Linked DNA regions of Homo sapiens: region 2 is linked to region 1. Evidence: fine-mapped expression QTL. Tissue or cell type: whole blood. Region 1 holds a variant in brackets; the other region holds the start of a gene. All regions are shown on one strand. Distances are from middle to middle.

Region 1 (8,105 bases):
GCAGAGATAACTGCTTTATGTTTACTTCTTTTGGTTTTCTGGGGACCACATTTGGATGTAAAGGTCAAGATGTTTGTGTCTGTTTGTTGGGGGAACACATATGTTGAGAGAAATGTGTGTGAGTGTGTGTGTGTGTGTATGTGTGTGTTGTGTGTATGCTGGGTGGAGCCAGGGGATTGGAAAGAGTTTTTAAAAAGAAAATAGAAAAACTCCTTCAGAATAGTGGCATTTTACTCCAAAATCATTTTTTTCATACCAAATAATGGGCAGATGTACAGGCCCTTGCAATTATGATAAAGGGGCCTATCCAAGGATACTTGTTCTTAGGGAGGGCCCAGAAAGATACAGTGGTCTGTGTGAGGCTTATTTTGACTGTGAAGCTAGGCTGATAAGTATGTACCCAGCCAAGGACTCTACAAATATAGTGGGGTTGGTCATTAAGATTAGAAAGAGTTATGCCAATAATATAGCTCAGGCTGTGGCCAAGAATTCCTTAGGTGGCGAAGAATCCCTCAGTTGGCATCCCTAGCTTATTTAAATCAGGTACAATACTCAGGAAAAACACAAGTTTTATATTGATTTTTCTAATTTTCTATTAGATTGGTGCAAAAGAAATTGCAGTTTTTGCCATTCAAAACTAATTAAATAGAGTTGAATTTATTTCTAACTAAATTCTTCATTTAGCAAGCGGTGGCAACCTAAGCTTAGTAAATTCAAGGTAATTTCAGTAGATATGTTATTTTATTCTTCCTGTTTCCTTCTTGATTTTGCATTTACATTTGGGGGGCAAAAATAATATCAAAGCATCAGGGAAAGGTTACTATGCCCCCTGCTATGGTTTGAATATTCATGTCCCCTCCAAAATTTATGTTGAAACTTAATCCCCATTGCAACAGTATTAAGAGGTGGGGCCTTTGGGATGTGATTAGGTTATGAGGGCTCTGCCCTCAAGGATGGGATTAGTGTCCTTAGGTAAAACAGATTGAGGGAGTGAGCTCAGCCCCTTTTTGCCTTTCTGTCCCTTCTACCACATGAGAAAGCAGTGTTTGTGTTTGTCCCTCTGGGGGATGCAGCAGCAAGGCATCATCTTGGAAGCAGACAGCAACCCTCACTGGATACCAAACCAGCTGGCACCTTGATCTCGGACTCCTCAGCCTCCAGTACCATAAGAAATAAATTCCTATTGTTTACAAATTACCCATTTTGTGATATTTTGTTACGGCAGTGCAAATGGACACTCAGGTATCCCCTTATTCCAATGGCAAGGTTTCTTGGAGCTCATTGCAACCCAATGTCACATGTGTGTGTGTTGCTCTTGGCTGCTTGCCGTGTTGCTGGGGTGTATGCATCATGTTGCACCCCATGTTGCTGGGGTGATGCTAGGGTGTGCCTCTGTGAACCTGCCATAGGCCCATCTGCTTATACATATATTACAGCCATGACACTCTACTGTTGTCTTCCTATGCTGGGGTAGACCCTCCCATATCCCAAACTTCACCTGGGAAACAAGGCATGTGCTATTTTTGTTCTCCGACTCCCAAACTGACCTTTGGGTTTTATTTTGTCCTCTCAGTGTCCTGACTTAGACTGGGGGAAAGGGCCAGATACATCGGGTTTTCTCAGAAATACGGACCAGACTAAGAACTTCTTAGTTTTTCTTCGATTCTATTTTTCTTTCATTGATTTTTTTCCCTCTTATGCCATTGTGTCTGCCGTGAGTGTCAAAAAAATTTTCGAAATTCAAAAGTCAAGAATTGGCTGCTTTGTTCTGTTGAGTCATTATCTAGGCAAAAGCTCGGAATGCCTCAATTGCTGCCTGATATGCAATAACAGAAATTGCTGGAAAAGAACAACACATCCAAGAATATACTAAATGTCACCATAGTACAGAGATGTGTGTGTGTGTGTGTATGTGTGTGCATGTGTGAGGACATACACACTTAAAATCTCGGTAAATGATCTCAGGGCAACTCTCAATAAATTGCTCCCTCTTTGTGTTTCCCAAAAGCCCAAGTTAAAGAGCCAATTCATTGATTAAAAATTAGTCATAGTTGAATTTGTGGAATTAATTGGTCCTCATCTTGCTGCTTAGTATACAGTACTGCCAAAATGCCAAAGAGTCAGAATTTAAAACACATCTTAGAGGTCTCTTTGACTGCAGATATGGCATGATCTGCTTGACAGCAGATCCACATTATGGAGAATAACAACCCCTCCACATCATTCTCAGCTGGCCTCAGAAGGACTGACTGCCTTTGATGAACTGATCTTGTGTACTTAGAAGTGAGACCGGCAATGCAGAGTAGATAAGGAAGCCCATCCTAGTGTAATTTGTTTAGAATGGCTTTATTATGTTTTCTGAATATAGAGTAATACTTTCTTAATGCAAAAGTAATCAGAAAATGCAGATAAACGTCTGGATTAAAAAAGAGTACTGGAGGCCGGGCGTGGTGGCTCATGCCTGTAATCCCAGAACTTTGGGAGGCGAGGCGGGCGGATCATGAGGTCAGGAGATCGAGACCATTCTGGCTAACACAGTGAAACCCTGTCTCTACTAAAAATGCAAAAATTTGCCGGGCGTGATGGCGCATGCCTATAATCCCAGCTACTCAGGAGGCTGAGGCAGGAGAATCACTTGAACCTGGGAGGCGGAGGTTGCAGTGAGCTGAGATCGTGCCATTGCACTACAGCTTGGGCAACAAGAGCAAAACTCCATCTCAAAAAAAAAAAAAAAAAAAGGAAAAAGGTACTGGTAGGGGCAGGCGTAATGGCTCACACCTATAATATCAGCACTCTGGGGGTCCATGGTAGGAAGATAGCTTGAGGTCAGAAGTTCAAGACCAGCTTTGGTAACACAGGGAGACCCCCATCTCTACAAAAAGAAATGGCCAGGTGTGGAGGTATGCATTTGTCGTCCTAGTTACTCAGAAGGCTGATGCAGGAGGATCCCTGGAGCCTAGGAGTTCAAGGTTAGAGTGAGCTATGATCATATCACTGCATTCTAGCCTGGGCAACGGAGCAAAATCCCATCTCAAAAAAAAAAAAAGAGTATTAGGTATAATCACACCATCCAGATATAACTCTGTTAATATTTTGTTGTAGACTTTTTCCTATGCCTAAGCAGGATGTGAAGATATATAATATATGATATATATATAACATATTATATATAATATATATTTCAGTCATATTGTACATATTATCTGTAATCTCCATTTCCCTTTAAGCTATATATTGGGAACATCTTTCCATGTTAATGTGTGTGGATCTATATCATGTTTTATATAATTACTTAACCAATCTCTTATTGATGCACATTTAGGTTGTTTTCAGTTTTCATTCTGAAAACACTCCTGTTACAAAAACCCTCAAACATTCTAAAATTGGAATCATCAGGTCAAAGGGAATGGATATTTAATATCACCAAACTTCTCCAGAAAACTGTAGTTTGTATCAATTCAGACTTCAGCCAACAATCTGTTCCAATACCATGAGATTTGAAGGCCAAGCCAATCTGTCTAAATGTCAGCATAACCATAACCTACTGTGGCCATCTTCCCCATCAGCCAGGCATTACAAGTTCATTAATAAGGACCTTCTTAGGGATTATAGTTTTCTCCAGGAGGACATGATTGGAATATATCAATTATCAGGATAAGCAATTTTAAGAAAATCACATAGCCAGACAGTTTAAGTATGTGCTAGTGTGTGTGTGTGTGTG[T/C]GCGCACAGGCACATGCCTGAAGGGAGCAGAAGTGATTACAGGTATGGATACAACATATAAATGTTCCAGATTTTTCTAGGACATCCTTAATTGTATTATTTTGTAATAAAGTGATTTATTTTTCATGTAAATATATTTATATAAGATGTGTTTTATACAACTGCATTTGCCAATTTACAATCGTTTTTGGTCAGCTTCTTTATGTTGCCTTTTCGGCTCAAGAGTACCATCAGTATGGCATGGGTACTATCCTGAAAAAGTAGATGAATGTCCTGTCTCAGGAAGGTGGGGCACTGCCCCATAAAATGAAATCTTTAGTTCTGGGTCATCAGGCAGTTTTTCAGCAGAGGCAGGCTGCTGCAGCTGCTGCTTCCTGTCCTACTCTCCAACTGTGTAAAAAACTGTGGACCACCCCGTGAGCCCCGATCTTCCTCTGAGATAGCCTTGCCCCCATCTGCTCTCAAGTCATCCTCTCTTTATTTCCCCTTCACAGAATGAAGCGTGGGAGTAAGCAATCGGAAAATGCACCATTTTCCTGGAGGTTGAGTGGAGGCTTGGGGATGTTTTTGTTTAAACCTCACTAATCTATTCCAAACAGGTGGCCTTAGGCTTTTTCTCCCACATGCCTGCCCTGCCCTGTCCTGCTTCAGTTTGTGTTTAATGCCACAAATTTGCCTGTCTTCTTCTTTTCCTTCCTTCCTCCATTTAAAAAGATATCCATATCCAACAACAAAAAAGGACCTGGGAAAGCCCTATGTAGGCATGGAGGATGTGACAAAGTCTTGAAATCTCTTCTTATTTGAGACAAGCCAGAAACTGTAATCATAACATGGGAGAGATTAGCAACAGCAAGAAAAATGAAATAGAGAGAGAAGGATAAGAGCAATGGAGGCGGGGAGAGGGGAGACATGCATCTGAGGGGTTGCCACGCAAGTTGTGAATGCCGCGGGATGGAAGGGTAAAGACTGCTGCCTACCCGGTATTGATTTTCAGGACAACGTAATGACTCTTCTGCGGGGAATAAGGAGGGCAATGAAGAAACAAAGGTCAAAGATGTTCCCCAGAGATAAACTGAGAGAAAGCCATCTATCCTCTTCGGCTATAATCATTTCCAGAAGTTTTAAGTATCTTTTGTTTTTTTCTTTTCTTTGTTCAACCTACCTGCAACAAACCAACCCATGAAGGTTTAATTTCATTGTTTGCCTCCATTTCTGATTATGATTTAGGGTGGAAAGGGGAACACATGAGAACCCCACAACCTAGCTTTTTCTGCCCAATCAGGGAGCACATATTTTTACTCTTTTTATGTCACCAATGAACTGATGGTGGGCATTTTCTCTTGCTCATTTGGTAGGCTGCCTATGTCAAGGAAATGAGGAAGATAGTTTATGATTTAGAGCTGACTTTTGAAATTGGGGTAACTGGAATGTGACCTTATCCTGAAGCAGGGCCCTTCTGGAGAGCTGAGAATGGGGGAAGGGCCAGCTGGGAGTGGCTGGTGCTGGTCCTGGGAATAGTGGGGGCTTCCCAGGAGATTCCCAGAGGAAGGGAGAAATAGTAGGTTCTCCTGAGAGCTATTATGCTTCTTTTCTTAGCAGCAACTTTATCTTTCTTGTTCTCTTCGCCCACTGCCTTGCTTTCCCTTGGTTACATAGCACTGACTATAAAGGTGGCAGAAGAGAAGGCTAAATAGCAAACAGCATCTCACACAACTTACTCTATTTAATCTTCACAATGATACTGGCTAGGTAGATATTACATCTTTCTTCACTTTATTGATAAGGAAACTAAGCTCAGCGAGGTAAACGATTTACCTGGGTACGTCCACACAGCAGGGAGCAGAGGCAGTACTTACTAAAATCCAGGCATTCTGACTTCAAGTCCAGAGGATTCCAGTCTAGTACCTGGATGCACTGGTTTTTGCATATGATATTGCTGAGTTTCTTGACAATCTAGACCATACTGTTTTTTTTTTGTGCTATCGTATTTCATACAGCTCCAAGAAAAATTTCAAAAAACAAGGAAAACTTAAAAGGGTCAAAGAACTAAGCTTACAGATTCCCATGCATTCTTTATTCTTATTACTAAATAGCAAACAAAGATACAGAGCTTGTCATTCGCCTAGGTCAAATCACAAACTGGGGTTGAAATTTAAAAAGAAACAAATTGAAGAGATGATATCAGTCAAAACAGGGGTGAGGTGGGGAGAACATGGGAATTTGAGAGTTCTGTTTCTGGATTCAGATTTCCCGGTTTGTGATCCTAGCGTCATTGCTTTCTAGCTATGCGGCCTTAGACAAACTCACCTACGTAAGCTTCAGCATTCTGATCTGTAAAATGGCAATAATAACAGTATGGATCTCATGGGTATTAGGTGAAATCATTCTTGTAGACATATAGTTGCCCTTGTATAAATGATAGCTATTATAATGGATTAAATATGAAGGGGCAGGAAGGGTCTGGGGTGAAGAGGAACAATCCATGGCCTGTTCTCCATCTGGGGTCCTATAGGCAAGTTCTAAGGCAGGGCTCCCCAACTCCCAGGCTGCTCTCCTGAGCTCCGCCTCCTGTCAGATCAGTAGCGGCATTAGATTCTCATAGGAGCGCGAACCCTATTGTGAACTGTGCATGTGAGGGATCAAGGTTGTCCTCCTTATGAGAGTCTAACTAATGCCTGATGATCTGAGGTGGAGCATACCCCCCTCCCCACGGTAGTGGAAAAATTGTCTTCCATGAAACCTGTCCCTGGTGCTAAAAAGGTTAGGGACCACTGTTCTAAGGGCTTGCGACATTTGGGGTCCTACAGGCAAAAGTTCTAAGGACTTCCTTTCCGGAATGGGGGAGGAAGTCACAGTGGAAGAATTTCTTGGCCTTCAATGGAAGCAGTGAAAAAGGAGTAAATCCGATGGACATATGTCTCTGACTTGTGCTGCTGCCAAACAGCTGATGCATTGAGATGGATGAAAAATCGCAAAAATTAAAAAAGAAAATTCTTTTATCATTTCCCCTCCCCCCACCCCCTGCAGTTCCACTGTGAGAAAAGAGCCTTCTGGCTGCCACTGTGGCTGTCGGATTTCTGGGTTTGGGCACTTGCTGCAGCCTGTGGATGCCATGCTGTCAGCCCTTTGCACGCGATTCCTTTAGGAAAGTCCCCGCCACCCCCAGCCTGACTTCTGTTTTACCCAGTGCCTGGAGAGCCAGCTGCACTGCGAAGCCCAGGAAGCAGCGGCTGCCAAGTGTCAGGGGAGGGCAGAGGCCTCCAGATAGTCTTCCTATGCTAGGAAAACGTGGGGGTTGGGGGATGGGTCCAGACTCAAGCTTAACCTGCTCAGGATGACATGCACTTTCCCCAACCTGCTTGTCCTGCAGCCTTTCTTGCCCAGCCAGGCAGGTACGTCCCACACATTGCAAAGTGGCAGGGGTGGAGTGGAGTTGGAGGGCGCTGAAAAGCAATCGCCTCATTATTTCGTTATTTCTTCTTGTACTTCAGACGAGCAGAATGCACCCTAGGAAGTCTATGAATTATTCATTATGCCTAATGGGTGCTCACAAGGGAGCACTGCTGAGATGCAATTAAATGGTGCTTTAATTTGAGAAATATTTATTGGGGTCTAGCGTTAAATGTTCATTCACATCTTTGTGAGCAACATTCTGATGGTAAATAGGGAAAGGAAAACCCAGAGCAATTTGTACAGAAAGGATTCCATATGCAGCTTTCCTCCACCTCTGCTGGGCTTGGGTCAGATCCTGATGTACAGGAGGGATTCTGAGCAGAACAATAAGTAACATTTGTTGAGGATCACCTCTGACGTAGAACTGTATTAAGCACACCTAACATTAAATACCCACCCTAACCCAAAAATGCAATCTAAATCCCTTCCATGGGACGTCACTATTATGCTGATTCGACCTGGTGAGCATGAAGTAACAATTACTCTAGCCATATTGGTAAGACATTTGCCTGCCAGAAGGTGGAAAATAAATCCCACAAAATTCTGGGGGTCTTCCATTGAATTGAAATTTCTGTGCTTCTAATTGTGTGAGACACGCCAAGATATCTCTTCTAAGGTAAAGGATAAGTTGTTGCATCTGGTCACTCCCACATCCTAAAAAGATATTAAACACTTTGGATTTTGGAGACGGTATATACCTCATTTGATGGTGCTACGCCATCAGGGTGACCCAAAAAGTGGCTAGTTTTGAGTGATGCCCAGAACAAAAGAAGGTATTGCAACAGGTCCAGGCCACCTTGCAAGCTGCTCTGCCTTGGCCACATGTGTGAAACTGGAATATAATTTCCACAAGGGCAGAGATTTTGTCTATTTTGTGTAGAATTGTAGTCCTAGGATCTTGAATATTACCCTGCACAAAGTGAACACTCAG
Region 2 (8,105 bases), 250 kb before region 1:
TCTCCAATTTTTAAATACAGACCTCTTCATATGAATGATATCCTCTGAAGGGCACTGAGGCCTCTGGAATTAAGGAAGCCTGTAATTCTTCCAACTACTACAGCCCTTATCTCCTAAGAGAGCTTTTCCTCAGTGCCTCACAGGAATGGCAATATCACCACCAACAGCATTCCTTATGCAGGAATGAAGTGGTGATATTTTAAAAATCATCTTCTGAATACCGACTTTGTGCCCTACACTTCTCGTGTGTCATCTCAGTTGTGTCTAATCCTCACAGTCCTTTGAGGGAGGAATATATATTCCCAATGTTACACACTTCCGAATTCCTTTTCTTGCTTTTTCTCTATAGCGCTTTCACTTTCTAATATATAATTATTTGTTTTGTTAATTGGACTGTCCTCATTAGAATGTAAACTTCAGTGAGGCAGGTTATTGTTGTCTGTTTATTCTCTACTGCTTTCCTGGAATCTAGAATAAATGCATCAATGAATGAATGAAGTGAGGCCCAGACTACTACTGAGTGACAGAGGTTTGAACCTAGGCTTATGTGCTGTGCTGACGCACTAGATAACCAATGACACTTGTGAAGATTAGGATCTAGGGCATATTCTAAGAGAGATAAAATATGCAACATTTAGTGAATGTTTGACTGATGAAGGGTTGCGTGCAAAGAAAACCACTGGTGTGTAAAAGGAGCAGGGAAAGCAGCCTCGCTTTTGATCTTTGACATGGAGGATGCAACAGAAAACGTGAGGCTGGAGAAAGCCTGGAGGTCAAAATTCAAAATGCTGACCTTGAAATTCTTCACATGTGGGCAGGGAATACCACGTGGAGGTGAATATAGTGTCCATAACACTCTATGTAATCCGTGCATGTGGGCATCCTTAAGAGTCTGTAAAGGGTTTGGCCTCACGTCTTGACACTCTGTTGCTACTGTGTGCCCTTGGGCAAATTCTTTAATCTTTGTAAATGGGATAATTTACATGTTTTTTCTGAAGACTGTCCGAAATTATGCAAGTAAACACAGAAACAAGACGGTACCCATCATGCAGTTAAGTGCCCAATATGCATTGTTGTATCAGTTTGCTGTGGCTGGAGAACAGCGTGTTCCAAAGGTGACCAGTAGGGAGAAATCAGAAATGTAGCTGGGTCCATTCTGATAACTGTGCTAAAGGATTTTTGATCCTGGTCTACGATAACACCCCCTTTACTTGACAGCTGAATTGGAACGGATTAAATCGGTTAGGGTAGTATCTCAGAGGGCTTTGCTGCAGATGAGCGAGTCCAGGCGGGCTGTCAAGCGAGCCTCAAGGGGCATCTGTGGGATGCCCAAACCGTGTCCCCAAGCCGAGGCCTTTTTACAGGTCCTCAATTCAGAATGAAAAATTAATTCCAACGGCTAATAGCACCCCACCACCACTTTAGGACGTTTCACCGTACCCATTTTGTCGTCACAGGGACCCTATGAAGCAGATAGTTTTATCTTCGTTATGCCGACGTGGAAGACTGCAACTTAGAACGGCTAAATGATTTAACTAAGGGCGCTTACCTAGGAAGAAGCGGGGGACATAATGCAAACGAGGGCCGTCCCACTCCAGAAGCCCTTTTCGCAGCATTTCTAGTACTGAGCAGTCAGAACGCCACTTTAATCAATGCGCCAGGAAACACTGGCATTCCCTTGGCGATAAAGTTCAGAAGCATGGGTAAAACTACAGTTTCGATGTATCCTCCCGAATCTATAGTCATACTCAAGTAGCTGCGTATTAAAACAGGCAAAGTAGAAACCCAACTTCCCTCCCTTTCTCTTCTGTTGGAGGTCCTGTGCTGAACCTCCAACAGGTTTGCTCTTCTCAGTTCCGCTGAAGGGCATCCTGCCTCTTCCCTCCCTGTCCCCAGGTCCCAATGACTGAAACGTCTCGGGGTGGGAACTTCTGTGACAGATCGTGGAGGACAGGGGGAGTCAACTCCAGCGCAGGCCTCCCCCGGCTGAAACTAGAAGATACCCAGTGAAATATACGAGTTTTGTTCCAAGGACTGCCCAAAAATGGTGCGGAGAGGAGCTCGGCAATCCCCACCTTTGTCGAACACGCTCCTCCAGGGGCGGCCTGCCTGAAGCAGAGCTCCAAAATTGGCAACCTAGGCCTCGCAGCCGCCTTTTTTTAGCCTACATTTCCCAAACCAGGGAAGAGGCGGGTGACTAAAAATGCAAATTGCAGCGGGGGTGTTAGCAGGCATGCCCGTGGGTGCGGGGCGTCGGGCGAAGGGAGACCCCGCGACCTTAGGCGCCCTCGCGGTGTTCACGGTAGGCGCAAAGCGCAGCAAGGGACACTCCCCAAAGCCGCACCCCGCCGGACGGCTGCCCCCGCTTCCGCCTCTCAGGCAGCGGTGGGACAAAGCGCGGCCTCTTTTCCGCCGGGGTTTAGGGAGGGAAGGCCGGATTAGGGCCCGCGCCTTCCGGCTGCATCCCTCTCGCGCCGCGCCGGCCGCACACAGGTGGTTTTCCGCTCGGGAGGGGCAGGCTTCGGCACTTTTATATAACAATAGAGCTCTGCGCGCCGGGAACGCGCCTCCCCGCCGCCGCGGCCCCCACCCGGCCACGCCTCCATCCGGCTTCCAATCCGTCCGCCCCGCGGCGCCTGGGCCGAGTGCTGCTCGCTGGCCTGGCCCGCACCTCCCCAAAGTTACCTGCTGGCTTTGCAGCGCGGTAGAGACGTTCCCCTCGACTCCTTGGGAGCGAGGAGCCAGGGGGGTCCCGGCAGGCACTCGTCCTTGCTCCCCCCACCCTCCCCAGATCTCTATGGACCCGGGAGTCCCTCGCTGAGCCCCGCACCCGTCCACTGCGTCGCGCACAGCCCCGTGCCCAAGCGGGGAGACGGGGACGGCGGGGCGGTGGCAGGGAGCGCAGCGCGCAGGCGCGGCTGGTGCTCCCCGGAGTGCCCGGCGCTGGACAAAGGGAGGAGGCGGCGGCAGGAGAGGGCTGGGGAGGCCCCCTCTGACATGCCTCCCTGCCAACTGTAACCAATCGTCGAGCCCCCCTGCCGAGCCCCCGCAGCCTGCAGGTCTTGCGGGAGGACTTCCTCACGCCTCGCCCATGGCGGGGACTGCTGGCCCGGCCCGGCGCGTCCCAGCACACCTCGCTCAGGCAGCCCCGCCAGACCGGCTCCCCCGTCAGAAGCCGAGCTCCTTGCCCAGAAATCATTAACCAGCGCGACCTCCCAGCAGGCGATGGTGGTGGTGGGGCGGGGGGAGAGATATAGATTCCCCCGAACAATGGCTTGTAACTCCCCACGCCGCCGGAGCGGAATACAGTAAAAGCACTGGACTGACCTAAGAGTTTGTTTCTGCACTCTACATTGTTTTAATGAAAATAAAATGTTATTTTAAGAAAAAAGGTTTTCTTCTGATTTTCTGCACAACCAGACGTTTGTTTGTTTGCTTTAAAATGTTTCAACAAAATCCTGGTTTGTTTCGAAATATGTTGGATTAGCATTTAACACCTCATCGGTCACTAAAGCCCAGTCAGTTCACCAGCCCCAACACAGCCTCGGCTAAAAGAACATCAGAGCAAACAGAGCTGGGCCTTTAAAAGTGGCAAACAAATGCCACACACCGCCTAAAGAAGGGGGGTTGGGGGAGGGGAGGGTTAAGGCGAACTTGGGTCCAAATGAGTTTGAAGGGAATACAAAGAACGAAAAGTCAGCACAAGTTTTCCTAAAGCTAGCTCGCGAACGCAAGCGTCGCGAACAAGGGCTTTTGTGCATGCTAATTGCGCCATTGGTGCGCAAAAGTTCCGACGCGAAGTGTGAACTCTCAACAGAAGGAAACATGAGACAACTGAAGTGCCCTGGTTTATGTGCCCTGCTCCTCCTCCGCTGCCGCCTCCCCTTCTTTCTCCTTCCTCCCGCCGAGCCCGCTGTTGCAGCTTGTTTGCACTGGGGCTTATCCGGAGCGGAAATTCCTTTCCGTTTTTGTGAATGACAAACTCATTAACAATTCATCAACACAACCTGTTCCAGCCGGCCCGTCCCCACGGCAACAGCCCCTTCCGCAGCACGCTCATTGGCTGGCCCGGAGAATGTATCCATTGAGACGCTCGCTGTTTGTATCCATTGAGGAGCTGCCTCGCGCAGGGGGTGTGCGAGGCTGAGTCCAAGAGATAGCAAATCGAGTCTTAAATAATCCGGGGAGAAAGACGCCCGGGTAGATTTGAGGTGCAGCCTTGGAGGGAGGGATTAGAAGCCGCTAGACTTTTTTTCCTCCCCTCTCAGTAGCACGGAGTCCGAATTAATTGGATTTCATTCACTGGGGAGGAACAAAAACTATCTGGGCAGCTTCATTGAGAGAGATTCATTGACACTAAGAGCCAGCGGCTGCAGCTGGGTGCAGAGAGAACCTCCGGCTTTACTTCTGTCTCGTCTGCCCCAACCGCTAGCCTCGGCTTGGGTAAGGCGAGGCGGAATTAAACCCCGCTCCGAGAGCGGCAGCTTCGCGCGCGGTGCGCTCGGCCTATGCCTGCCCCGAGGGGCGTCTGGTAGGCACCCCGCCCTCTCCCGCAGCTCGACCCCCATGATAGATACGCTCAGACCCGTGCCCTTCGCGTCGGAAATGGCGATCAGCAAGACGGTGGCGTGGCTCAACGAGCAGCTGGAGCTGGGCAACGAGCGGCTGCTGCTGATGGACTGCCGGCCGCAGGAGCTATACGAGTCGTCGCACATCGAGTCGGCCATCAACGTGGCCATCCCGGGCATCATGCTGCGGCGCCTGCAGAAGGGTAACCTGCCGGTGCGCGCGCTCTTCACGCGCGGCGAGGACCGGGACCGCTTCACCCGGCGCTGTGGCACCGACACAGTGGTGCTCTACGACGAGAGCAGCAGCGACTGGAACGAGAATACGGGCGGCGAGTCGGTGCTCGGGCTGCTGCTCAAGAAGCTCAAGGACGAGGGCTGCCGGGCGTTCTACCTGGAAGGTACGCGCCCAGGGAACTCCGCGCGCGGGGCAGGGCTAGGGGCGCAGGGCTGCGGGCGGGGCGCGTGGATTGAAAATACCTCTGCTCCGCTCAGCTGGAGCTTCGGAGCCGCGCTGCCCGCCTAGGGACCGGCAGCCGGCGAGGTAGGGGCCGCGAACCGCGCGTTCCGCACCAGAGAACCGGGCCGGCTCAGAATCCACTCGCTTCCGGCTGCGGGTACCGGCGGTTTCTTTCTAACGGGTTCTGCGCCTTCTTAGCCAGAACATCCTCCACCATCACCCTGTTTTCTATCGTTCGATTTTGAATTAAGATTTGCAGGACGGGAGAGATTGTTGGGGATGCAAATTGGCACATCTTAGCTCTCAAAATATTCCAAAAAGTTGCCATTTTGTCTATTTCCGGATTCAAGCGAATAAGGGTTCCCTGGCGAGGCGGGCCCGTTCGTTCCATTCCCGATGGTGCACATTTAAAGTGTGTTTCTCTTATAGATGGTTCTGTATGTAGGGGGTTCGTAGGATGCTTGTGGTGTTTCTTGCGCCGGGCTGCGGTTCTTACAAGCTGTGAAAACTACTACGGCTTCTCAGGTTAGATGATTGCTTTTCTCGTTCTGGCAGGTGGCTTCAGTAAGTTCCAAGCCGAGTTCTCCCTGCATTGCGAGACCAATCTAGACGGCTCGTGTAGCAGCAGCTCGCCGCCGTTGCCAGTGCTGGGGCTCGGGGGCCTGCGGATCAGCTCTGACTCTTCCTCGGACATCGAGTCTGACCTTGACCGAGACCCCAATAGTGCAACAGACTCGGATGGTAGTCCGCTGTCCAACAGCCAGCCTTCCTTCCCAGTGGAGATCTTGCCCTTCCTCTACTTGGGCTGTGCCAAAGACTCCACCAACTTGGACGTGTTGGAGGAATTCGGCATCAAGTACATCTTGAACGTCACCCCCAATTTGCCGAATCTCTTTGAGAACGCAGGAGAGTTTAAATACAAGCAAATCCCCATCTCGGATCACTGGAGCCAAAACCTGTCCCAGTTTTTCCCTGAGGCCATTTCTTTCATAGGTGAGACTAATTAATAGTCGTCGCTCTGACATTTAAATGCAAAATTCCTAGCCATTCATAGAGTTTAAGCTGTTAATCGTTCTTGCTGCTTGCTAATTTGTCTGACTGCAGGTCTCTAATGTTCCTAGAGCGTCCTTAATTCTGGTTTATCTTCTTGCTAAAGGAAGAAAACCTGCCTTTTGACATGGCTGCAGATCACAGGTGTATTTGAAACGCTGTTTCTTGAATCTTTGAATTCAGTCATTGACAGTCGTTCATAATCGGACAACAGATTTTTCCCCCCAGTCTTTGGACTCAGGGGAAGGGTCAGATAGAAGTACTCACTATAGACAGGAATTCCAGCATTGCTTTATAATTTAAAAACATCTAGGAGTTATTTTAGGACATCAAGTTAGTTGTTGGAAAGCAGTATGAATGCTGAATGTTATCCAGTTGAATGATGCGGTGATACTGGTAACAGTGAGACAGTGGGTAACCTGAGCCCAGCAGGAAGAACTGTGGGCTGGAAGCCTGGGAGAAGTGAATCTCCAGGCATTGTAATGCATTTCCTATTACAAAGGAACTCATTTTCAGGCCGTGTCGACATCCTGTTCCTCCTAATGGGCCGTCCCCTGTGACTTCCCTCTCTCTTTTAAAATGCCTGAATACCTCCATTGTTAGCTGCACAACATTTGGAGCATAATTTAATAGACCCTTGCAGTCTGGTTGTCTGTGTAAAAGGCATTCACGAACATATTGCAGGGTTTCTGGTATTCACATGCCGAGGCAAAGAATGCACCCATTAAGGAGTTTTTTGTTGGCAGAAACTTAATACAAAAGCTCTCTTTTCAGAAAATATCTGAAATATGTAATTGTGTCCAGTGTACATGTTTCATTTCAGTGATACATTTTCTGCTGCTTGTAGGGCTCAACTGCCACACACAACTATTATTATTATTATGTTTTCAAGTTCAGTTTTTAGACTGATCATTCACAAAGGGTGGTTTTCAGTCTGCTGAGATCTTGCTTTTCTTTTTGTGTTCACAGATGAAGCCCGGGGCAAGAACTGTGGTGTCTTGGTACATTGCTTGGCTGGCATTAGCCGCTCAGTCACTGTGACTGTGGCTTACCTTATGCAGAAGCTCAATCTGTCGATGAACGATGCCTATGACATTGTCAAAATGAAAAAATCCAACATATCCCCTAACTTCAACTTCATGGGTCAGCTGCTGGACTTCGAGAGGACGCTGGGACTCAGCAGCCCATGTGACAACAGGGTTCCAGCACAGCAGCTGTATTTTACCACCCCTTCCAACCAGAATGTATACCAGGTGGACTCTCTGCAATCTACGTGAAAGACCCCACACCCCTCCTTGCTGGAATGTGTCTGGCCCTTCAGCAGTTTCTCTTGGCAGCATCAGCTGGGCTGCTTTCTTTGTGTGTGGCCCCAGGTGTCAAAATGACACCAGCTGTCTGTACTAGACAAGGTTACCAAGTGCGGAATTGGTTAATACTAACAGAGAGATTTGCTCCATTCTCTTTGGAATAACAGGACATGCTGTATAGATACAGGCAGTAGGTTTGCTCTGTACCCATGTGTACAGCCTACCCATGCAGGGACTGGGATTCGAGGACTTCCAGGCGCATAGGGTAGAACCAAATGATAGGGTAGGAGCATGTGTTCTTTAGGGCCTTGTAAGGCTGTTTCCTTTTGCATCTGGAACTGACTATATAATTGTCTTCAATGAAGACTAATTCAATTTTGCATATAGAGGAGCCAAAGAGAGATTTCAGCTCTGTATTTGTGGTATCAGTTTGGAAAAAAAAATCTGATACTCCATTTGATTATTGTAAATATTTGATCTTGAATCACTTGACAGTGTTTGTTTGAATTGTGTTTGTTTTTTCCTTTGATGGGCTTAAAAGAAATTATCCAAAGGGAGAAAGAGCAGTATGCCACTTCTTAAAACAGAACAAAACAAAAAAAGAAAATTGTGCTCTTTTCTAATCCAAAGGGTATATTTGCAGCATGCTTGACTTTACCAATTCTGATGACATCTTTACGGACACTATTATCACTAAGACCTTGTTATGGCGAAGTCTTTAGT

The links. PIP is the estimated chance that this variant, and not a neighbour inherited with it, causes the effect.
Region 2: DUSP6 starts here. The variant in region 1 is fine-mapped to the expression of DUSP6 in whole blood (INTERVAL, PIP 0.94).

What each region holds. Positions count from the first base shown.
Region 1 is chr12:89,097,757-89,105,861 of GRCh38, reverse strand. No RefSeq gene overlaps it. Among named protein-coding and RNA genes, the nearest start is that of LINC02458, 82 kb to the right of the region's middle. The variant T/C (reference allele first, on the strand shown) is at 3,722.
Region 2 is chr12:89,348,501-89,356,605 of GRCh38, reverse strand. It overlaps DUSP6 (dual specificity phosphatase 6), which reads left to right and starts at 4,105. Exons shown (of 3, transcript NM_001946.4): 1 at 4,105-4,966; 2 at 5,581-6,018; 3 at 7,045-8,105. The coding sequence starts at 4,567. The coding sequence ends at 7,352. It overlaps POC1B-DUSP6 (POC1B-DUSP6 readthrough), which reads left to right. Exons shown (of 11, transcript NR_189589.1): 10 at 5,581-6,018; 11 at 7,045-8,105. RefSeq lists enhancers at 1,880-1,929, 4,979-5,613, 6,249-6,883 and a silencer at 2,850-3,159.